Linked DNA regions of Homo sapiens: region 1 is linked to region 2. Evidence: fine-mapped expression QTL. A gene starts in region 2. The other region holds a variant in brackets. All regions are shown on one strand. Distances are from middle to middle. Region 1 holds the start of MIR575 (microRNA 575). Region 2 holds the start of SCD5 (stearoyl-CoA desaturase 5).

The links.
Region 1: its variant is fine-mapped to the expression of SCD5 in spleen (GTEx, PIP above 0.99).

Annotation. Positions count from the first base shown.
Region 1 is chr4:82,750,312-82,758,311 of GRCh38, reverse strand. All of the region lies in intron 1 of SCD5 (stearoyl-CoA desaturase 5), which reads left to right. It overlaps MIR575 (microRNA 575), which reads left to right and starts at 4,882; the gene lies at 4,882-4,975. The variant A/G (reference allele first, on the strand shown) is at 4,431.
Region 2 is chr4:82,794,541-82,810,082 of GRCh38, reverse strand. SCD5 (stearoyl-CoA desaturase 5) reads left to right here and starts at 11,287. Exons shown (of 5, transcript NM_001037582.3): 1 at 11,287-11,777. The coding sequence starts at 11,546. RefSeq lists enhancers at 10,129-10,845, 10,846-11,563, 12,540-13,061 and silencers at 10,932-11,351, 11,682-11,731.

The sequences.
Region 1 (8,000 bases), 48 kb after region 2:
TTTTTGTTTTTGGAGAGACAGGGATCTTGATATATTGCCCAGTCTGGTGTTCAACTCCTGGCCTCAAGTGATCTTCCCATCTTGGCCTCCCAAAGTGTTGGGATTACAGATGTGAGACACTGCACCCCACTGGTTGTAGTGTTCTGTGGGCCTCCCCCTCTCCCAGGAGGTGAACAGCTTGCTCTGGATTCACTGTCATCCTCTGAACGTCTCCAGAGTCCTCCAGATTGTTTCTACTTATTCCTCACAGAGATGCACTCACTAACCCAGTCTCTTGGAAATGGGGTGCAATCACCCCACCAGCTGATCTGTTTTCTGTTGTTTACTTTTTTGACTTCTCCAGAGCAGCCAAATGAACATCATCTTCAAGATAATCTTGGCGTAGCCGTTAATGGATTCTGCACTGCAAAAGTGTTTGAAGCCAGTGGCTGTACTTTAAAAAAATGCATCCTGTTGGTATTTTTCATGTGTTAGGACTCTCTTTTCCTGAAGTTTATATAGGGCTTAGGATGTTCCAGGTACAAAGCTAAGGACCATATGTTATTTTGTTCATTCTTCACAATACCTCTGATGGAGGTACTAAAATCATCCCCATTTTGCAGACGAGGCTCTACAAGATAAGTGATTTGACCAAGGTCACATGGCCAGTAAGTGCGGGAGCCGGGATATGTGCCCAGCACTTTCACTCCAGAGTCCTTAACCACCTCACCCACAATAATAGATTTGGGTTTGAATACCAGTGCAGTCACTTACTAGCTGTGTGGCTTCAGGCAGTATAATTCCCGTCTCTGGATTTTGGTTTCCTCAGCTGTAAAATGCGAATAGAAAGACCTCCCTCACGGGGGCAATTCAATTCAGTTGAATTGAATGCTAGGTACTGAGGGTCTAAAGAGATGAGCCCCACCCTTAAGGCCCACAGGGTCTCATTGTGTTTGGGTGAGTGTGAAATGCACAGGGCTATGGGAACCCAGGGTGAAGAGCCCTCCTGGGTTCGGGGTCCTGGGAAGCCATCTGAAGGAGATGATGACTGGATCAAGACCTAAAGGACTTTTCCACAGAAGAACCACACAGACAAAGGCATAGAACTTTGCAACAGCAGGATGGAGATGAATTGCAACTCAGGGTAACCAGAGAGTGACGGGAAAGGAGATGGGAGAGGAGAGACTGAAAGCGAGGATGGAGAGAGGGTGGGGAAGGCTCCTTATGTGTCACACTAAGAAGTTTGGGTTTTCCCTCTGTGGAAGGTGAGGTGCCATGGAAGGGTTTTGAGAATGGGAGTGGGATCACATGTAGTGGCTCACGCCTATAATCCCAGCACTTTGAGAGGTCAAGGTGGGAGGATTACTTGAGCCCAGGAGGCAGAGGCTGTGGTGAGCCAAGATTGCGCCACAACACTCCAGCCTGGGTGACAGAGGGAGATCCTCTCTCAACAACAACAACAGTTTGGTTTCATGTCTTGATATGCAGTGTGGGTGGCTCTATGGAGGATGGATTTGAGGGGGGCAAGACTACAGACAAGGAGACCAAGGAGGGAGATGTTGTGTTGGTTCTAGTGAGAGATGGTGAGGGCGGCTACAAGTAGGAAAGAGCATGGAATGGAGAGGACTTTGAACTTGACAGGTCCTGATAATTGCATGGACGGGGGGAGGGGGGTGGGGGAGGAACAGTCTTAGCTAATGCTGCCTCAGCTTCCCGAGTAACTGGGATTACAGGTGCACACCACCACACCTGGCTAATTTTGTATTTTTAGTAGAGATGGGGTTTCACCATGTTGGCCAGGCTGGTCTTGAACTCCTGACCTCAAGTGATCCACCTGCCTCAGCCTCCCAAAGTGCTGGGATTACAGGCGTGAGCCACCTTGCCCAGCCTAAAGAGGTTTTATAGATAAGAAAGTTGAGGCATAGAGAGGCTAAGTGACTTGGCTGAATGGCACATGGCTAGCAAGTAACCAACTGGGACTCACAGCCGTGTAGTTTAACTCCAGCGCCTGCTCTCATCATCACTGTGCCATGCCTGTCCTGACTGGTCCAGGAGGGCAGGAGAGGGGGTCTCGATGACCCACCATCCCCACCACTGCTGCCACCAGCAGGAATTTTACTTGGGTGACCGAGTGGGTGATGGTGCCATTGACTGATGATTCTAGAAGGGAGTGGAGAGAGATGCTGGTTTCCATATTACACCTGCTTAGTGTGATGTGCCTGTGGACACCCAGAGGAGGAAGGCATCTCAGGCTGTGCCCTTCCTCCTGGAGCCTCTTGTCACTGAGCCACAGGGCCTCTACACCAACACTAAATCACTATACTGCTTTCCATTTAGATGACAATTTGATTTAAACAAATTCTGGTGGTGCAGGGTCAAAATTTTTCATAATCTGAAGTGATTTTTCTCTGTTTCCAGTCCACTGACTGGATGGCAGATTAAAATGTGAGGGTTTGACAAAAAGATAATGGAGCCGTGCCAGCCTTTAGTGTTTCAGGCATAAAATTAAATTCAACATGGTATCATGCATTTGAAGACTTGTCATCATAAGGCTGGCCAGACAAATATGCTTTAGAGGGTTTGGTTTTGAGAATGAGTAGGAGAAATAAAATATGAAATATGATAATAGTGGAGACTAGACGTATTTTGAAAAACATTATCTGATGGTGTTAAGCCATCCTTTTTGAGCGCATTGTTTAATGCTGCCTTCTTTTCTGCCTGTTTGACCAAGGGACTCTGAAGTGTTGGACAGGTTCCACTACTGAAATATGCAAATTTAACATTCCCTCTCCCCACATCTACACCACCCCTTTCTTTCTTTCTTTTCTGTTTTTTGAGACAGTCTTGCTCTGTCGCCCAGGCTGGAGTGCAGTGGTGTGATCTCAGCTCACTGCAACCTCCGCCTCCCAGGTTCAAATGATTCCCCTGCCTCAGCCTCCCAAGTAGCTGGAATTACAGGCGTGTGCCACCATGCCTAGTTAATTTTTGTATTTTTAGTAGACACTGGGTTTTGCCATGTTGGCCAGGCTGGTCTCAAACTCCTGGCCTCAGGTGATCTGCCTGCCTCAGCCTCCCAAAGTGCTGGGATTACAGGCATGAGCCACCATGCCTGGCCCCTTTCTTTCATCTCTCCTAATTTTTTCGACATTCTCCTACCCATTTTCTCCTTTCCTGGGCCTTCAATTTGTGCCCACCTCCACCCCCATCCTCACCCCCCATCTTCTTGTTAGCTGCATAGTTTGGTCTGGCTATAGACTTTCCAAGTTCTGAAGGTAAAACTGACATCAAGTTCTTCCCATCTGGTCTACTGAGTGCACCCTGCAACCTTAGCCTAGGCACTTTGGCACCTTCTGTTTTAGCGGCTGTCTCTGTCCATGGTGGGCTTGGTGTCTTGTTGCTTCTGTTCCTCTGAGTGAAGTGTTCAAAGCCTCAGACTCCTGAGGCTCAGCTCTGTGCCCTGGCCTTCGAGGCTTGTCACTTCTGCCGATATAAGAAGTGAAATATAGGTCAGCCTCACAGATCCCAGTGTTAAAAATAAAAGCTTCATCCCCAGGCTCTGCAGGTCTGTAGATTGGCATGGGTTCCCCCACTTTCCAGCAACCACTCTTCTAAATTGCTTCTTGGAGCTTAGTACTGATGCCATCCGCTATGCAAGAGGGAACCTGAAAATAGAAGAGGAGCTGAGATCGTCTCCCTTGGCAAATGCCATTCCAAAATGTGAAGATTGCCTGAATGGAAATTGTAAATAGCAGCACTGAGCAGGTTTCCTCCCTGTCGGGTTAGGAGGGTGGGCTGCTGGTGAGGGGAGGGTGGGTCCTGGGGGGAGCCTGGAAGGAGTCCCTCTCCCTCTTAGGACCACCCAGACCCCTCCTGTGGCAGCCAAGTGACCACGCACTGAGATTCCTAAGTATTTTGATGAAAGGACTTCTCCTCCCTCTCTCTGCTTTCCCATTCTTAGTCCTTGCATTTGAGCTTTCTCAGAAGATTTAGCTGCTTTTCTGTGATATGAAAACTGAGGAGGTTGAAAAGCAGGGCCTTTGAATTTATTTTTAGTATCTGCACATTTCTCTCTTCCTGCATTCTCTCACTTTCTTCTCTCCCTTCTCCTTTCTCTTCTGATTTCCCGCTTTCTCTCCCTGCACTGTCATTCTCTTTTGCCCTTCTTAACTCCTGCAAAACGGGGAGATAAGTTTTCCTCCACATAAGAAGCCAGGGCCTCTGAGAAGCTTGTCTTTGAACAGATGCCTCAGCCTTGCCCCTTTCTCAGGTCTCATTTTTCGGGCGAGTCTGTGCTTGACAAGAGACTGCGTTATCTTGTGGGAGGACCCTAAGGAGCCAGGGTACTTGACATTTAAAGCTTTTCATAAACAGTGTCTTCAGTGCTTGGCAAACCTTGAACCCTCCCAGCTGGCAGCAACGAGGCTTTCTCATCAGGACTGGCTCAGCCTCGG[A/G]TGTGACATTTTCCCAGGGCCTCAAGGAAATGGAATACGCCCTGTCTGCCTTTTAATCCCTCTCAGTTGGATTTTCATAGACTTCTGTCAGGGGGGTATGTGCTGGCTGCTTTTCCTATAAACTGGAGTCAGGGGAAAAGGGGAAGATGGCTGAGGGGGGAGGCAAATATGGATGCATTTAATACACATTTGGCAGGTCAAGCAGAAATATCATTGGTTACATAGTTTTTTGATGCTATCCTCCAGGCCAAATTAAATGACTTCTTTGGGAGTAGAGAAGGGCTTAAAAACAGTGATTTGGGTGACACCCTATGAACATTCTAACCTGAAACCCTTCCCCGCAGGTGACTCAGCCCACAAAGAGCCACACTCCTGGCAGATGTGGGAAATGGACACTATCACTGTCAGAGTCCACCCGCGTGACTCTGGGGCGCACTGCTTTGTGCCTTTAAATTCAGCCCTGCCACTGGCTTATGTCATGACCTTGGGCTACTCAGGCTGTCTGCACAATGAGCCAGTTGGACAGGAGCAGTGCCACTCAACTCTGGCCATACACAGAACCCCCCACCCCCACCCCAGGGAGCTTTTAACACACATAGCCATCTAGAGAATGTGGATTAATTTGGTCTCAGGTGAGGCTTGGGTGGCTGTAAAAGCTCCCCAGGTAACTCTCACATGAAGTAGGTGAGACATGCTCCCTAGACACATGTCTCTCAAACTGGAATGTGCACAGGAATCACATAGGATCTTGCTAAAATGCAGACTCCAGTCCTGTGGTTTTCAGTGGGGCTGGGGATTCTTCTCTTCCCATGTGCTCCTGGGCAAACTGATGGTGTGGGTCCCCAGAACACACTCTGCACAGCCAAAGTCTGGATGGTCTTTAAGGTCCCTGCAGTTCCTTACTGAGTTTTCTTGGTGAGGAGAGGGCAGGGAATTAAGTAAAAGATATATTTTAATGGTAGCAAAGAGGACCTCCCTTTTATCACTGGGGTAAAGTCATGTCATTTTTGGGAAAATGTGATGCAGTATTTGGTGGGTAGGATTCAATTTGTATCCATTTTCAACACTGGAGTAAGTTTATTTAGGGGGAAAAAGGGAAACAGATGTAGCTGTGTGTGTGAAGAATGGGGAAGAGAGAGAAGCGTGAAAGAACTGAGTGGATGTGTGTGTGCTCACAGGGCGAGGATTCCATGCAAACAAATACATAGGCTTCTCCAGGTCCAGTTTTGGTGAGGGGACAGGAAAAGGGACAGATATTGTTCAGCTGGGATTTAAGGTGAAGATCATGCTCCCTGGAACAACCCAAAGGCTGGAAGATTCCATCTCCTCAGCCCCATCTCTTTCTGGTGCTAAGCAGCCATTTGTTCCAATTATCCTTGAATTATAGTGACAGCTTTTGGTTTATGCAGGCCTTCAAATCATCCTAACCTAGTAGAAGAAGTAAAATGATGCCTTTATTGACAAGAACATTTCAGCTGGCTGGTTTTAAAAGACTCTCTTCTTCCCACCTATTCCCACGTCCCTGTGCTTCCACCTCACTAAGAGCCACAGACACCATTTTGGAGTGTCAAGATCTTGCCTGATTTTGCATATATATATATATATATAATTTTTTAAAATTCAAGGTCAACCTTGAGAGATATTGCTTGTATTCTGCCTTCTGTTTTCCCTAATCCTTATAGAACTACAAATTCCCATACATGAGCAGATTTTCCTGGTTTAAAATTATATTTAACTAAAGTTAAATACTTCAGGCCTTGTGATGGTGATTCTCCTGCCCACAGACTTATGGGGATTTCTTTTGCTTTAAAGCAGGTCTTTAACAGGGCAGTATTTCTTGCTAAAATCCACAATCCAGGGTTTTGTCACTGTTCTATTTTTAGAAATTCTTCCAATTTGTAGTCTAAAGGAGAGGAATGTTTTTCTAACAAAGATATTTTCCAATCTAGAGAAAAGAGGCTGGGCGTGGTGGCTCACGCCTGTAATCCCAGCACTTTGGGAGGCGGAAACTGGCAGATCACAAGGTCAGGAGATCAAGACCAGCCTGGCCAACATGGTGAAACCCCATCTCTTCTAAAAATACAAAAATCAGCTTGGCGTAGTGGCGCGTGCCTGTAATCCCAGCTACTCGGTAGGCTGAGGCAGGAGAATTGCTTGAACCAGGGAGTCAAAGGTTGCAGTGCGCGGAGATTGCACCAGTGCACTCCAGCCTGGTGACAGAACAAGACTCCGTCTCAAAAAAATAACTAACTAACTAAATAAAAGTAAAAGATTCAAAAGATTTTAAAGTTATTAATCCTTGTGCTCTGAAACAGACATTTATAACTTTAAAACAGCATATATAGGGACCTTACCTCCCTGACTGATGTACATAGGATTTGGCTTTTCTCAGTCCTAAGAGATTTAAAGATTTAGTGAAACATAAAGAACATATTTTAAGCAATATCAATATGCAGGCCCAATGTAAATGTCCCCATGAATGTCGAATGCAAGTAGTTAGTCCTCAAACTCCTCTTCTCTTAGCCGGGTATGGTGGTGCATGCCTGTAGTCCTAGCTACTAAGGAGGCTGATGTGGGAGGATTGCTTGAGGCCAGGAGTTAGAGGCTGCAGTGAGCTATGATCACGCCACTGCACTCCAGCCTGAGCGACAGAGTGAGACTCTGTCTCTAAAATACAAGTTAAATGAAAAACTCCTGTTCTGTGTCACACATTTGTTGATTTTGCTCATTTATTTATTCCACCGATACTTATTATGGGCTTATTGTATGCTTTATGATGGGTTTACACAGCTCTTTGTGAAGCCCTGAAGATACCATGGAAAACAAAAACAGACCTTGTTCTCATGAAATTTGAAGACTGGGGAGGAAGACATAGTCACAGAGGTTAATATGTAAGTGCTGTGAGAGGAGGGAACACGGATCTAAGAGCATATAACCAAGAAACCAGCCTAGCCTGGGCTGACTTGCTGAATGTTTCACTAGTTGGGGAACTCTGGGAAAGGTAAGTTCTTTGGCATTTGCTGCCCAAGGTTTAGAGGAACTCTGTGCTAGAGAGCCCTTGGCAAACAACTTCACTTTGGCCTTAAACATGAGATTCACTACCTGTAAAATGGACTTCTGAGTCCTCCCTACCTGTCCACCTAGCAGACCGTTTCGTCAGAGCTTCCTCTTCTCCAACAGTGCTTTCTTTTAAACAGACATAATGAACTGCCTTTTGGTTTCATGACTTTTTTTTTTTTTTGCTACAAGCAGCTCTCTTGTGGCTGGCAAAAGTAAAGCCATATTCTCGAGGACTCAAAAGACTCTCCATGGCTTCCCTGGATCTTGAAGAACATTTTTTCTCCAAGTAATTTTATTAGCCTGGGTGGACACTTGCAGTCAGTGTCACCATTACATTCTTAATCTTTACAAAGTGTGCTTATTTGCTTCTAATTTTGAATGTCTTTTTATTCCCTTTACTTCTTGCATGTGTGAAGAAGTAATTGTTACACAGATGTTTTGGAGATAGTGTTTGGTCCTGTGTTACTCCTGCAGGGTGTAGGTAGCTCCTCCTTGTTCTCAGTCTGTCGA
Region 2 (15,542 bases):
AGCCTACCCAGTTATGCCTCTCTTCACAGTCTGGGACCCCCAGGAGCATCCTGGCTTTCTGGCCAGGCAGGTTATTACAACTGCATTCAGTCCATCTGTCTAGAATGATTAAAAAAATAGTAATAAAATAAGTGGTTCACACTAATTTAGGTACCAAACTCTACAAAGTTCTATTCCTGTGAAATGTGTGGTATTATCTCCATTTTGCACATAAAATACTGATGTTGAGATTATTTGGCACTTTGCCTGGAGAGGATTACCAGCATAGATCTGTCTTAATTCCCATAATATATAGGATGAAACTGAAGATCTGAAAGAGACTCATTGTCCCCAAATCACACAGTACTTGGATGTGCCAATTCAGAGTGGGAGGGCCAGACTTCAACCCAGGTCTTTTTTTTATTGTTAATTTTTAATTTTTGTGGGTACATAGTGGGTATACATGTTTATGGGGTACATGAGATATTCTGATACAGGCATGCAATGCATAATAATCACATTGGGGTAAATGGGGTGTCCATTACCTCAAGCATTTATCGTTCTTTGTGTTACAAACAATCCAGTTATACTCCTTTAGTTATTTTTAAATGTACAATAAATTATTATTGACTGTAGTCACCTTGCTGTGCAATCAAATACTATACATATATATATATATATATTTTTTTTTTTTTTTTTTTTTTGAGACGGAGTCTCGCTCTGTCAGCCAGGCTGGAGTGTAGTGGTGTGATCTTGGCTCACTGCAACCTCCGCCTCCTGGGTTCAAGCAATTCTCTGCCTCAGCCTCCCGAGTAGCTGGGATTACAGTTGCTCGCCTCCATGCCTGGCTAATTTTTTTGTATTTTTAGTAGAGATGGGGTTTCACCATCTTGGCCAGGCTGGTCTTGAACTCCTGACCTGGTGATCCACCCGCCTTGGCCTCCCAAAGTGCTGGGATTACAGGCATGAGCCACTGCGCCCGGCCAAATACTATATTTTATTCATTCTATCTAACTATATTTTTGTACCCATTAACCATCCCCCTTTCTCCCCTGCCACACTATCTTTCCCAACTATGCTTCCCTTCCCTGGTAGCCATTGTCCTACTTTCTATCTCCATGAGTTCAGTCATTTTAATTTTTAGCTCCCACAAATACATGACAACATGTAAAGGTTGCCTTTCTGTGCCTGGCTTATTTCATTTAACATAATGACCTCAAGTTCCATTCATGTTGTTGCAAAGGACAGGATCCCATTCTTTTTTATGGCTGACTAGTACTCCATTGAGTGTATGTACCACATTTTCTTTATCCATTCATCTGTTGATGGACACTTAGGTTGCTTCTAAATTGTGCTGCAATAAACATGGGAGTACAGATACCTCTTCCATGTACTGATTTCCTTTCTTTTGGGTATGTACCTAGCAGTGAGATTGCTGGGTCATATAAATATATTTATATTTTATATTTTATATATTTATATTATATAAGCATACTTATAAACATATATACAATAAATATTTCTGGAATATTCTATGAATGAATGGGTGAATAAACCTTGAATGCAATGCTTCAACCACTTCACATTTTTAATTAAACTATTAATTTTGAAGTAATTATTTATTCATATACAGTTATAAGAAATCATAGAGAAATTATACCTTTTACTCAGAGTCCTCAATGATATTATTAATAATTTCCATTTCCACCAACAGTGTATGAGGGTTCTCTTTTCTCCATATCCTTACCAGTATTTGTTATTGTCTGTCTTTTGGATAAAAGCCATTTTAACCGAGGTGAAATAATATGTCATTGTAGGTTTGATTTGCATTTCTCTGATGATAATGTTCAGCATTGTATCATATACCTGTTGGTCATTTGTTTGTCTTCTTTTGAGAAATGTCTGTTCAGATCTTTTGCCCATTTTAAAATCAGTATTTTTTTCCTGTGGAGTTTGAGCTTCTTATATATTTTGGTTATTAATCACTTGCCAGATGGGTAGTTTGCAAATATTTTCTCCCATTCTGTGGGTTCCATATTCACTTTATTGGCTGTTTCCTATGCTGTGCAGAAGCTTTTTAACTTGATGTGATCCCATTTGTCCACTTTTGCTTTGGTTGCCTGTGCTTGTGGGATATTACTCAAGAAATCTGGCTGGGTACAGTGGCTCACGCCTGTAATCCCAGCACTTTGGGAGGCCAAGGTGGGCAGATCACCTGAGGTCAGGAGTTTGAGACCAGCCTGGTCAACATGGTGAAACCCTGGACCCTACTAAAAATACAAAATTAGTCAGGTGTGGTGGAGCACACCTGTAATCCCAGCTAGTCAGGAGGCTGAGGCAGGAGAATCGCTTGAACCCAGGATGCAGAGGTTACAGTAAGCCAAGATTGTGCCATTGCACTCCAGCCTGGGTGACAAGAGTGAAACTCCATCTCAAAAAAAAAAAAAAAAAAAAGAAGTCTTTGTCCAGTCCAATGTCCTGCAGAGTTTCTCCCAATGTTTTCTTGTAGTACTTTGATAGTCTAAAGTCTTAGATTTAAGTCTGTAATCCATTTTGATTTTTTATATAGTGAGAGATAGGGGTCTAGTTTTGTTCTTCTGCATATGGATATCCAGTTTTCCCAGCACCATTTACTGAAGAGACTGTCCTTTTTCTAATGTATGCCTTTGGCACCTTTGTCGAAAATGAGTTCACTGTAGATATATAGATTTGTTTCTGGGTTCTCTATTCTGTTCCATTGGACTATGTGTCTGTTTTTATGCCAGTGTCATGCTGTGTTGGTTACTATGGCTCTGTAAATCAAGTAATGTGATTCCTCCAGTTTTATTCTTTTTGCTCAGGATAGCTTTGGCTTTTCTGTGCCTTTTGTGGTTTCATGTACATTTTTAGGACTGTCTTTTCTATTTCTGTGAAGAATGTCATTGGTATTTTGATGAGGATTGCATTGAACCTGTAGATTGCTTTGGGTAGTATGGACTTTTTTTTTTTTTTTTTTTTTTTTGAGACGGAGTCTCGCTCTGTCGCCCAGGCTGGAGTGCAGTGGCGCAATCTCGGCTCACTGCAAGCTCCGCCTCCCGGGTTCCTGAGCCATTCTCCTGCCTCAGCCTCCTGAGTAGCTGGAACTACAGGCGCCTGCCACCCCGCCTGGCTAATTTTTTGTATTTTTAGTAGAGACGGGGTTTCACCGTGTTAGCCAGGATGGTCTCAATCTCCTGACCTCGTGATCCACCTGCCTCGGCCTCCCAAAGTGCTGGGATTACAGGCATGAGCCACCGCGCCCGGCCAGTATGGACATTTTAACAGTATTGATTCTTCCAATCCATGTACCTGCAAACCCAGGTTTTAGACTGCCAAACCTAGGTCATTTTCACAAGATTGTGATTTTGTCCTGTAGACAAAATCTGCATTTTTTTGAGAAATGCATAGATCTGAGAATCATTGTAAATTTTTAACTTCAAGAATGGATCTTTTCTTGCTCTTTCCTCCCTCCCTAAAGCCTGCATTTTCTCCACAGGTTCTTGCTCTATCACCCAGGCTGGAGTGCAGTGGTACAATCATGACTCACTGCAGCCTTGACCTCCCAGGCTCAGGTGATCCTCCCACCTCAGCCTCCCAAGTAGCTGGGATTACAGGTGCATGCCACCACACCCAGCTAATTTTTTGTATTTCTTGTAGAGACAGGATTTTGCCATGTTGCCCGGGCTAATCTAAAAGTCTTGGGCTCAAGTGATCCACCCACCTTGGCCTTCCAAAGTGCTGGGATTACAGGTGTGAGCCACTGTGCCTGGCCAAAATACAACCTTATCTAAGTGCTAGGTGTTTTGCTAGGCTCACCCCCATATCTAAGCCTATTCTTAGGCTATTATCCAAGTGGGAGTCTCTGCAAAGTCACCTATCTTCCAGGGCCTTGTTTGCTGCCACCTCCTCCACGAAGCCCTCCTGATCATACCAGACCACATGCCTCATCATGTTTCTCTCTCACACACAGTTTTTGTAGGTAGCATTAACATATAATACTTTCTGTCTTCTTTCTATCCTCTCTACCAGAAGCAACTTCTACTCCAAGGTATGCACTGCTGGCCAGAATCCAGGAATTCTGGCTGTGATGGTCTTGTCCTCATACATCTCAGAGCTGCTAGTTTTGTATTTAGAATCTTCTAACTGTTCATTGACATTTGAAAGCTGTTACTTGTCTTTCTTTAGGAAGTCCCCTTGGGCACCCAGCTCACAATCTTCTCCAGCTAAATCTGGATGCAGCCTGTGATTTCAACCCCCTTTGGAGGTCCTGTCCATAATACTTCATCTTCCTCATTTCCAGGAACTGCCAACCCTCCACTATAATCCTGTGGCCTCACCTTGGAGCTTATCGTTGGAAACTCTTTCACAACCATAGGTCTCAAGTCCCAGATCCCACTCTTGGGGCATAATGGCCATTACTTCATTTATTTTCATTCCCTAATAAACAGATTTTCTCTTCAATTTCTTCAAAACCTTGGTTCCCTTGATTCCTCCACTGTCTATAACATCTTAGCTTCCTTCTAGTCATATTTCCTCAAGTACCTGGATCCTTTGTCCTCCCATCAAACCCACCCTACAACTTCAATATGGATATTCCATCAGACTGCTGAGGGATGCTGTGTAACCACAACTGTGCAGACTAAGCCAGTTTAAGCTTGTGGCAACCATTCTTAGTTGGGCCCTTAATTAGGCCAGGCAACCTTTTAAATGTTCTTGATCAGCTTCCTCTCTCATTTTTCTCAACAGCTTTTGGAGGCCTTCATCACTTTTTCCCAACTCTTTACCAAATTCCCACTCTGCTTGTCCAGCAGACACCTGATCTTCCCTTCAGAGCAAACAGGCCATCATGGCACCCTCCCTTACTTTATTGGCCCACTCTGTAAGCTCCCTTCATCCTCATTTCCTTCCAGTCTCCAATGAAAAGCTGTCCCTCTGCTCTAAGTTAGCCCAACCATCTGCTCACCTGATCCCATCCAGCCCTAGAAAGCACACACTCAACTTTGCTTCTCTATCCCTCTCCTCTTTACTGCCAAGCATCTAGGAAAATTAACTTACATATGCGTTCCATGCTTGTCTCCTCCCTCTTGTTCTTAAAGTCACCTCTGTGCAAGGTCTGTTCCCATCACTCGTTGAAAAGTCCTCAGCAAATGTCAGCCATGACCTTTGTATACAGTGTGCTCTTCATTTCCCTTCTTTCCTGGCCTTTCCATAACATTTTCGACATTGCGAATCCTGCTCTCCCACACTCTGCTGATTCTTCCACTTCTCTCATTTTCCCTTCTCAGTTCACACCACTGGCTTCTTTTTCTTTGCTGTGTTCATAAATAGTGTTTCACTAGGATTCTATCCTGAGCCCTTTTCTCTTCTTACCTTTCCTGGCCAACTGTTTCTACTGACATGGATTTTACTATATTGAACCATGACTAAATTGTTATTTTCAGCCTAGACTTTTTGCCAAGCTCCAGGCACCTATATATTCAAAAATCCACCCAAAGTTTCACTTGAATGTCTAAAACAGGAATTCATTTTCTTCTTTAATTTATTTCTTCAGTTCCTATCTCAAAAATGATTATGATTATGGTGATAATATTTACTAATTCCTTACTATGTGCCAGGCACTGTTCTAATCACTTTATGGATATTGACTTTAGTTGTCACAGGAATACTATAAGGTAGGTATTATTCTCACTTTACAAGAGAGGAAATAAACACAAACTTAGTATTTCAGTGAGTGACATTGTCCTTCACCTGAATACCCAGTTCAGAGACCCAAAAAGAATCTAGATTTTTCTTCCTCCTTCTTTATGTTTAATCCAGCATCAAATCTCTTTGACTCTTCCATTTGAGTTTCTCTGGCTTGATTCCATCTTCTCTATTTATTGTTCTCCAGAATCTGTGCCCTTGCCTTAATTCAGGCCCTCATCATTGCTCAACAGATTCTTAAAATAGTGTCCTAACTGATCTTCACACCTTCAATCTTAGCTCTCTGCACCCCCAATACAATCATTCCCCACTCTCTTCCAGAGTGGTCTTTCTGCAGTGCAAACTTGATCCCAGTACTGTGCTACATAAAGTCTTTCTGTGGCTCCCCTCACCTACCTCATAGCTCTGTCTGCACGGCACTCAAGACACCCACGTACCCTCATCTGCTGCCCACTGCATGGCATTTCAGCTTCATCTCCTACGCTTCCCTACTTTCACTTCAGATATTCCATATACCTCCCTGAATGCCAAGTGCAAAAACTTTACTTACGCACTTTTCTCTGCCTGGAATATCCCCTACCATTTCTTTGAACTATTCATACTTCAACAGTGCTGTCTTACATGACAGCCATTAGCCATATGTGGCTACAAGCACTTGTCGTTAATCTGAATTAAGGTGTGTCGTGTTGTTAAGTGGAAACATGGAATTTTGAGACATAGTATGAAAAAAGTATAAAATGTATCAATAATTTTATACTGATTTTACATTGAAAAGATAATATTTTGGATACATTGAGTTAAATAAAATATATTATTAAAGTTTTTTTCTGTTTCTACCTTTTTAATGTGGCTACATTACAATTACACATGTGGCTTGAATTTGAGGCTCATGATATATTTTAATTAAACAACAATCTTTCAAAATCCTTACCCAGTAAACTTAACCAATGAGGCAAAATAACTGTACACTGAAAACTACAAAATGCTGCTGAGAAATTAAGGAAGACATAAATAAGTGAAAAGACATGCCATGTTCATGGATTGGAAGACTTAATATCATTAACATGAAAATACTAATTAAAGTTATATACAGGTTTACTGCAATCCCTATCAAAATCTCAATATCATTTTTGGCAGACCTAAAAAGATCCTAAAACTGGTATGGAATCTCAGTAAGCCCTGAATAGCCAAAACAATCTTGAAAAAAAAAAAAAAAAAAAGAGAACAAAGTTGGAGGTCTCAAACTTCCTGATTTCAAAACTTCCTGATTTCAAAGCTACAATAATTCAAACAATGTGGTACTGGCATAAAGACAGACATACAGACCAATGGAGTGAAATAGCCGAAAAAAAAAAAAAAACTCTCATATATACGGTCAACTGATCTTCAACAGGGGAGCCAAGACCATTCAATGGGGAAAGGATAGTTTCTTCAACAAATGGTGCTAGGAAGACTGGATATCTACACATAAAAGAATGAAACTGGGCATTTATCTTCTACAATACACAAAAATTAACTCGAAGTATATTAAAGACCTAAATGTAAGTTTTATAGCTAAAACTATAAAACTCTTAAAAGAAAATATAGAGGAAAAGCTTCATGACACTGGATTTGGCAATGATTTATTGGATACGACACCAAAAGCACAAGCACAGACAATATAAGTAAAAATAGATAAACTGGACTACATCAAAATTTAAAATGTCAGTGCATCAAAGAACACAATCAACAGAGTGAAAAAGGAAACCTACAGAATGGAAGAAAATATTTGCAAGTCATATATCTGATAGGTTAATATTCAGAATATGTAAAGAACTCCTACAACTCAACAACCACAACAACAAAAACCTTATTTAAAAATAGAGGACTTGAATAGATCTTTCTCCAAAGAGGGTATACAAATGACCAACAAGCACTTGAAAAGATGCTCAATATCACTAATTATTAAGGGAGGGCAATAAAAACTACCATGAGATATCACTCCTTACCCACTAGGATGGCTATTATCTAAAAAACAGAAAAAGTATCAGTGGGGATTTGGAGAAATTGGAACCGCTGGGCACTGTTGTTGGAAATATGAAATGGTGCAGCCACTATGGAAAACAGTATGACAGTTCCTCAAAAAATTAAACATAGAATTACCATAAGATCCAGCAATACCACTTCTGGATATACATATATATACCGAAAAGAATTGAAAGCAGGTCCTGAAGAGATCTTTGTACACCCATGTTCCCAGCAACATTATTTCCAGTAGCCAAAAGGTGGCGCAACCCAAATGTCCACTGTTAGATAGATGAATGGATAAACAAAATTCATATCCATACAATAGAATATTATTCAGTCTTAAAAGGAAGGGAATTCTAACACATACAACCTGGATGAGCTTTGAAAACATTCTAAGTGAAATAAGCCAGTCACAGAAAGACAAATCCTCTATTATTTCACTTATATGATGTATCTAGAGTAGTCAAACTAATTGAAACAAAGTAGCACAGTGGTTGCCAGCATCTGGATGGAGATTGAAAGGGGAGTTTAATGAGCATAAAGTTTCAGTTTTGCAAAATGATAAAGTTCTGCAGATCGGTTGCACAGTAATGTGCATATATAGTTAACACTACTGAACTGTACATTTAAAAACGGTTACAGTGGTAAATTTTGTTACATACATTTTATGTTACATGTATTTTACCACAATTAAATATTTTTTAAAAATCCTTCCCCAGGTATCACTCCCCCTCCTCCCTGCTTCTGTGTGAATTAACAACTCCCTCCTTTGCACCTCTACATTATCTTGCGTATACCACCATTATGGCTCTTATTACATTTTTGGTAATTACGTGTTTGACAGGATAAGGGTTACTGTCCCATTTGCCCCATCCTGGGACAGGTGAATACTTATCCACTCCTGGGGTCCTGACTAGAAGCTAGGAAAATATACTAGGGTCTTTGGCAAGACAGAGAAAAGAGGCAGTGACCCCTATGGCATAATTGGCTAAAGAGGACCGTCGTTATCAGCAAGAATATATCTTGGATCTTGTAGATGTTTCACTCTGAGGCTGGACCTGGAAGGACCATTTTTCTTCAACAATCCTTTTATAGGCAGGCTCTGACAAACCTAAGTAACACTTCTTTCCTCCCTCAACACACAAAAACATCTTCTCCATTATGAGGACAGCCAGCTGAAATGACTGGTCATACCTGGTCTGACCCACAGGAGGGAAAAGAGAAAGATGTTCATTCAAGATGGATTCAAGGGCCGGGCACAGTGGCTCACGCCTGCAATCCCACCACTTTGGGAGGCCAAGGCTGGCGGATCACAAGGTCAGGAGATCGAGACCATCCTGGCTAACGCAGTGAAACCCCCGTCTCTACTAAAAATACAAAAAAAAAAAAAAAAAAAAAAATAGCCGGGCGTGGTGGCGGGCACCTGTAGTCCCAGCTACTCGGGAGGCTGAGGCAGGAGAATGGCGTGAACCCGGGAGGCAGATCTTGCAGTGAGCCGAGATCAGGCCTCTGCACACCAGCCTGGGCAACAGAGCGAGACTCCGTCTCAAAAACAAAAACAAACAAACAAACAAAAGATGGATTCAAGATAGAACAGCTGACCTAATAAGGTTCTCAGGGGGGACAATAAGGAACTATTTTTGCTTCCCTTAGACTCCTTGTATGTAAGTTTGATACCTAATTAAATTTTTTTTTCCGATAATGGACTGTAACTTTCTGCCCTTCCAAGGTCATAGTCAAGAGGTTACATTTGTTTGCTCCATCTTTGCTTCTAGATGGGAGCTCCTTTAGGGGCGGGACCAGACTTTATTCATCCTTGGATCCCCTGTGCCCACTGGTCCTGGCACATAGCAGATGCCCAATAAATGCCAAATAAATGACTGAATGTTTAGAATGAGGGTCTTTACAGCATTGAGCCTTTCCAATAACCCGGAGAGAGGCTTTTGGCCGAGCAACTAGTCTACCCCAGAGAGAAAGGACAGTCTGAACTAGAGAGCCACAGGGAGTAGGAAGGTCTGCTGGGTATGGGGAGCAGAGGGAGCATGAGAAGAAAACGTGGTTCATTACATAGCCCAGGTTGAACAGACAGATGAAAATCGCACCCTCCAGCTTCATGTTCCACTGTCTGACTGGTCATTATATAGGGCCGACATTTATCTGGTCTCCAGGCAAATTCTATAATTTCAGCTCCGTCTGAAGCAACACAGTAACACTGACTCAGTGGCCTAGATTCCACAAGTGCCACATACCTTGCTTTAGCTTAAATCAGGCATTGTTTTGTCTGGCTGCTAGGACTGGCTCAGGTCTGCTAACAATAAGATGCTTATGCATGGCCCTTTCATGCAGTCAGTCTTTTAAATTTTTTTGCCTCTCTTGAAATCCTGGAAATGATTCCTAACAACGGTTAATCTAAAAATCAGCTGGTTTTGGTCAATATAATGGCGCCCCTTCGAACTCACATTCATGGAATATGGAAGCTGGAAGGAAGAGTAGAAACTAGTTCTGCTTCTCAGGTAAGGAAATCCGTGCCCAGAGAGTTGGGCTGGGTTCCAGCCAGTTAAAACTAGAACTCAGAGATGCTGTCCCGAGCCCTTTTACTTCTGCTGCCTGCCCGCAATTGCGGTCACACCTGCTTCAGACACTTCCAGCTCAATCCTCCCTCCATTTTCTGTGCAACTAGGGTCCTCTCTGGAGAGCTCTTAAGCCATCAGCTCTAGGAGAGAAGTGGGCAGACACAAATCTTTCACAGGTTAATTTTCCTTGGAACATTCTGGGTGATTTTTTTGTAAAGCCCGATTCTCAATGGTGTTGATTTCAGGGTAGTGTTCCTCACTGAGAGCTAAGGAGGCGTTGCAGAAGTGCGCTGATTAGCTAGAATTGACCATAAACAGAGTGGCGCGGCGGATGGGCAAAGGGTGGGCAGCGAACTGGCCCAAATCATCTGTGCATCACCTCACAAGCACCAACTGAGCACTTACTGTGTGCCTGGGTAATCCACAGCTGCCTAATTAAGAACGAGCAGCTGCCTTCCAACCCTCCCCTGGCCCGAGGAGCCCTACTAACTGGCAGATTGAGGGACTTCTGATTCTCATCGTGGGTCTGGCCTTAACTAGGGTCGCGACTCCAAGCAAGTATTTAAAATTCTCCAACCCAGGTGGCCTGAGGCTTGAGAAGAAATAAAAGGCTTCTCAAAGGGATGACAGTTTCGGGAAGTTTTTTTTTGGGGGGGGGACTGGAAAAATACCATAAAAGGCATTTTGGGGGTCACACACACACAAGAGCAGAAGCGCTGTGAGCCGCCCTGCAGGCTCCCTGCCCCGGGAGCCACCTTCCACCCGCCCCCGGGCGGAGGCGGCCAACTCCCGCCCAGCGGGCTCCCCAGTTCGGCCCCGAAAAGCCGAAAGGGGGGCGCCTTTGTCTATAAGCGCCGCACGGGCGCTCCTGATTGGCTGTAGCTAAGCAGGGCTTTCTTCCGCGCTCCTTCGGAGCGCTCCCTCCAGCGTCGCCGGCCCCGTTCCATTTTCACAGCTCCTCCTCCCCGGCCGCGCGCCCCTCCCGCCCCGCGCGCGCCTCCTCTTTCTCGCGGCCGAGTTCAGCCCGGGCAGCCATATGGGGGATACGCCAGCAACAGACGCCGGCCGCCAAGATCTGCATCCCTAGGCCACGCTAAGACCCTGGGGAAGAGCGCAGGAGCCCGGGAGAAGGGCTGGAAGGAGGGGACTGGACGTGCGGAGAATTCCCCCCTAAAAGGCAGAAGCCCCCGCCCCCACCCTCGAGCTCCGCTCGGGCAGAGCGCCTGCCTGCCTGCCGCTGCTGCGGGCGCCCACCTCGCCCAGCCATGCCAGGCCCGGCCACCGACGCGGGGAAGATCCCTTTCTGCGACGCCAAGGAAGAAATCCGTGCCGGGCTCGAAAGCTCTGAGGGCGGCGGCGGCCCGGAGAGGCCAGGCGCGCGCGGGCAGCGGCAGAACATCGTCTGGAGGAATGTCGTCCTGATGAGCTTGCTCCACTTGGGGGCCGTGTACTCCCTGGTGCTCATCCCCAAAGCCAAGCCACTCACTCTGCTCTGGGGTAAGTCCCGCCGGCGCCCCCTGCGCCCCGGCCTCCGTGGCCAGGCCGCGCTGGGGCGCGCGAGGTCGCCGCTCGCCCCTCGGCTGCGGGCGGTGCGCAGCGACCCCCGGTCTCCCCTCGCCTCCCGCTGCGCGCCGCGGCCCCCTTGGCATCCAGTTTTCCGTCCCTTGGGACGGGCAGGTGTTTCTGTCCCAGTATTTCAACTTCCGCCCCCCCCCCGCCCCCACCCCGCCGCGGTCTGCCTGAGGAAGCGCATTTGCCGGCTTCCCGATGGAGAGCCGGGGGGGACCCGGAGTCCTGCGGTGCCACCGCTGTGCGCAGAGGCGCGCGAAGGGAGAGGCTCGGCACAGGCTGAATCGGCTCCCAGCGAGGGAGGACGGGCGGGCGATTGTGTCACCTCTGCGGTCCCTGGGGCTCTCCTATCCCCCCCATCACCTCCGCGGGTCACGGACCTTGGGGACAGAGATGAGGACAAGTAAGGGAGTTGGACCGGGGAGGAGAGACCCGGCACAGGATAGAGTCTTGGTTTACGCGCACCAGATGGAAGATACCGGTTCCCCTCTTGCCTCTCCAAGGCCCCTGTCCCTGCCCCCTCCGCAATCTTCTATGCCCATTTGCAGTTCTCGGTGAAGTTTCTCGGTGAGCAAACCGATCCCATGGCGAGAGCGGTCTGACCCTAGCACGAAGCTCCGACTGTGGCTGTGCAGAGCCTTCTCCAAACCCTGTTCCCATGTGGCCAGTGGGAACCTGTGGCTCTCCTGGTACCCTCCTTCCGTGCACCCCCACTCCTGCCAGTAGGGAAGGGAGCCCGGGCGCCGACCACCATTCCCCTTCCCCTGGGCCCCAGGGACTGCGTGCCCACCCTACACGACCCCAGTCGTTGATCTTTGAACCACTTCGCAGCCGCCCTGGCCGCAATAACTGGTTTTGGCCTCCTTTACTGAAGCGGCAGTAGCCAGGACAAAAGGCACAGGCATTGATATGCTGAGTGAGAATTTGACGAGGTAATCCAAGATGCCCTTCCAGCTCCCGTTTCCCTGATCTCTAGGGGCGGGCAGGAGAAACACAACCTACTTTTATTTCCAGAGGGGAAGAGGAAGGAAGAAAATAAGACCTCTTTCTACAGGGCTTTTTTGGCATGGTGCCAGCTGCAAATGCCTAGGTAGATAATGGGGCCACTATGGTTCCAAGCCTTCCCTTGAAATCCTGCAGTCCCTGCTCTTGGAAGTAAACCCATCCAGAAGTGGGTACCTCTTAGGGGGTGTGGCTCAGGGAGGGCATAGCAGAGTTGACGGATGGTGAGAGAGGTAGGATCTTTGGGGATCCCTAAAGCCTTTAAAGTCTCCCCAAAGCTCTGGGAAATCTCCTGCTTCATCTTTCCTTCTCTCAGTGCACCTCCTCATTTCTGTGTCCTTTTCACCATCACCTTTATGTGTTGGTTTAATTCTCCAACTGACTGTAGACTGTATGATGTTCAGCTGTTGCTTCATCAACACACTCCGACACTGCCAACCAAAGCCCTTATTGCCCAGAGTTCTCCAACAAGCTCCTCTCTCCCCCCTGCTTCCAGAGGCAGGGCTGGGCTTGGTCCTCAGAGCCTGGTGACCTCTAGGGGATTGAGGCTTATCTTTAATAGCTGTGGTGTTCAGAGAGTGCTCAGGGAAAAGTGAGCACTTAAAATATTATCTTACATGCCTAGGGCTCACTGGCTCCACTTCTTACAGCCTCTGAGCCCCAAGACCCTGGCACTGGACCAGGAGCCACAAGGACAAGGCCCCTCTCTCCAAGTTTGCCAGGTCACCTCTGCCCTTTCCGGACCGCTCTCTGTGGTGAAGATAGAACCTTTGTTCTGAAAGATCTTGGCTTAGAGGACACCTCCCAGGCCCCAGTGTCCTCTAGCTTCCTTAGAGAAGTTAACACACTGAAGGAATCTGGTTTCCCCTTTGTGACTCATGTCCCAAACCCCATTCCATACCTTCCTGGATAAATTCTGCCTGTGCTTCATCTGCTATTTCCTAAGTCTTTTTTTTTTTTTTGAGACAGAGTCTCGCTCTGTCGCCCAGGCTGGAGTGCAGTGGTGCGATCTCGGCTCACCGCAAGCTCCGCCTCCTGGGTTCACACCATTCTCCTGCTTCAGCCTCCCAAGTAGTTGGGATTACAGGTGCCCGCCACCACGCCCGGCTAATTTTTTGTATTTTTAGTAGAGATGGGGTTTCACCGTGTTAGCCAGGATGGTCTCAATCTCCTGACCTCGTGATCCACCCACCTCAGCCTCCTAAACTGCTGGAATTACAGGCGTGAGCCACTGCGCCCGGCCCGTAAGTCTTAATTCTCTCCCCACCTTCATTGCCTCCCTAAAAAAAAAAATAGCAGACAATGGTAGATATTAGAGTTTTAAGGTCCAAAATTGTGACTTAGAAACAGTCCAAACAATGGGTCTTATCTGATGAATAGCTACTGCCTCTGCTGCTTTTTTTTTTTTTTTTTTTTTTTTTTGTGAGACAGGGTCTTGCTGGAGTGCAGTGGCACGATCATAGCTCACTGCAGTCTCAGTCTCCTGGGCTCAAGCAATGCTCCCACCGCAGCCTCCCAAGTAGCTGGGACTACAGGTGTGCACCACCACACCTGGCTATTTTCTTTTTCATTTTTTTGTAGAGATGGGGGTCTCACCATGTTGCCCAGGCCGGTCTTGAATTCCTGGGCTCAAGCAGTCCTCCCAAAGTACTGGGATTACAGGCGTGAGCCACTGTACCCAGTCTCATGAATAGCTTTTGAGGGAAGAAATGAGGGACAATCAGAGACCAGCTAAGATCAGCTGTGCTGATGGCTAGGCTACATAGTAAGCAGAGGGACGAGGCAGACCACTGACTCAGGGTTATTTTCAGTGAAAGCCCTGGTGCCTTGATCCACAAATTTCCCCCCACTGAAGGCCCTTTTTCACCACCTCCCTACTGGTTATGTGTAGCATTAGGGCCAAGTTCATGCCCCAGTGGGCTGCTCATGCACTTCAAGGACCTGACTTGTAGAGGAAATAGGCTTAGCCTGTCCATTGCTTGCCACCCTCCACACCAGATGAGGTTGTGCTGGAAACAAGAGGCATCTATGCAGTGCACCCAGCAGGGGATGTGTTGGATGTGCAGTGTGCAGAGAGTAATTTGTGTGGTGGTAAAATGTCATCCGTGAAAGAGCCATCAAATTGTTAGTTCATCAAGTTGTTAGTTCTCCTTGGGGCCAGAGCATGTTGTTTTCCCTTTTTATCCTTTTCGTTTTATGAGTGGGCAGGCTGTCAGGACAGAATGCTCTTGGTGCCCCCAGGTCCTCAGCAATGCGTTCATGACTTTCAAGGACAGAAAGCGGCCGGGCATGGTGGCTCACGCCTATAATCCCAGCAGTTTGGGAGGCCGAGGCGGGCTGATCACAAGGTCAGGAGATCGAGACCATCCTCGCTAACACGGTGAAACCCCATCTCTACTAAAAAAAATACAAAAATTAGCCGGGCGTGGTGGTGGGCACCTGTAGTCCCAGCTACTCGGGAGGCTGAGGCAGGAGAATGGCGTGAACCTGGGAGGTGGAGCTTGCAGGGAGCCGAGATTGCGCCACTGCACTCCAGCCTAGGCGACAGAGTGAGACTCCGTCTCAAAAAAAAAAAAAAAAATGGACAGAATGCAAACTCCAACTAGAGGAAAAACCTGCATCTGAAGGCTTGAGCTCACAAAAATGCCTGCTTGAGAGTTTCTGGCCAAAGGGACAGTTAGTCAATGCCCT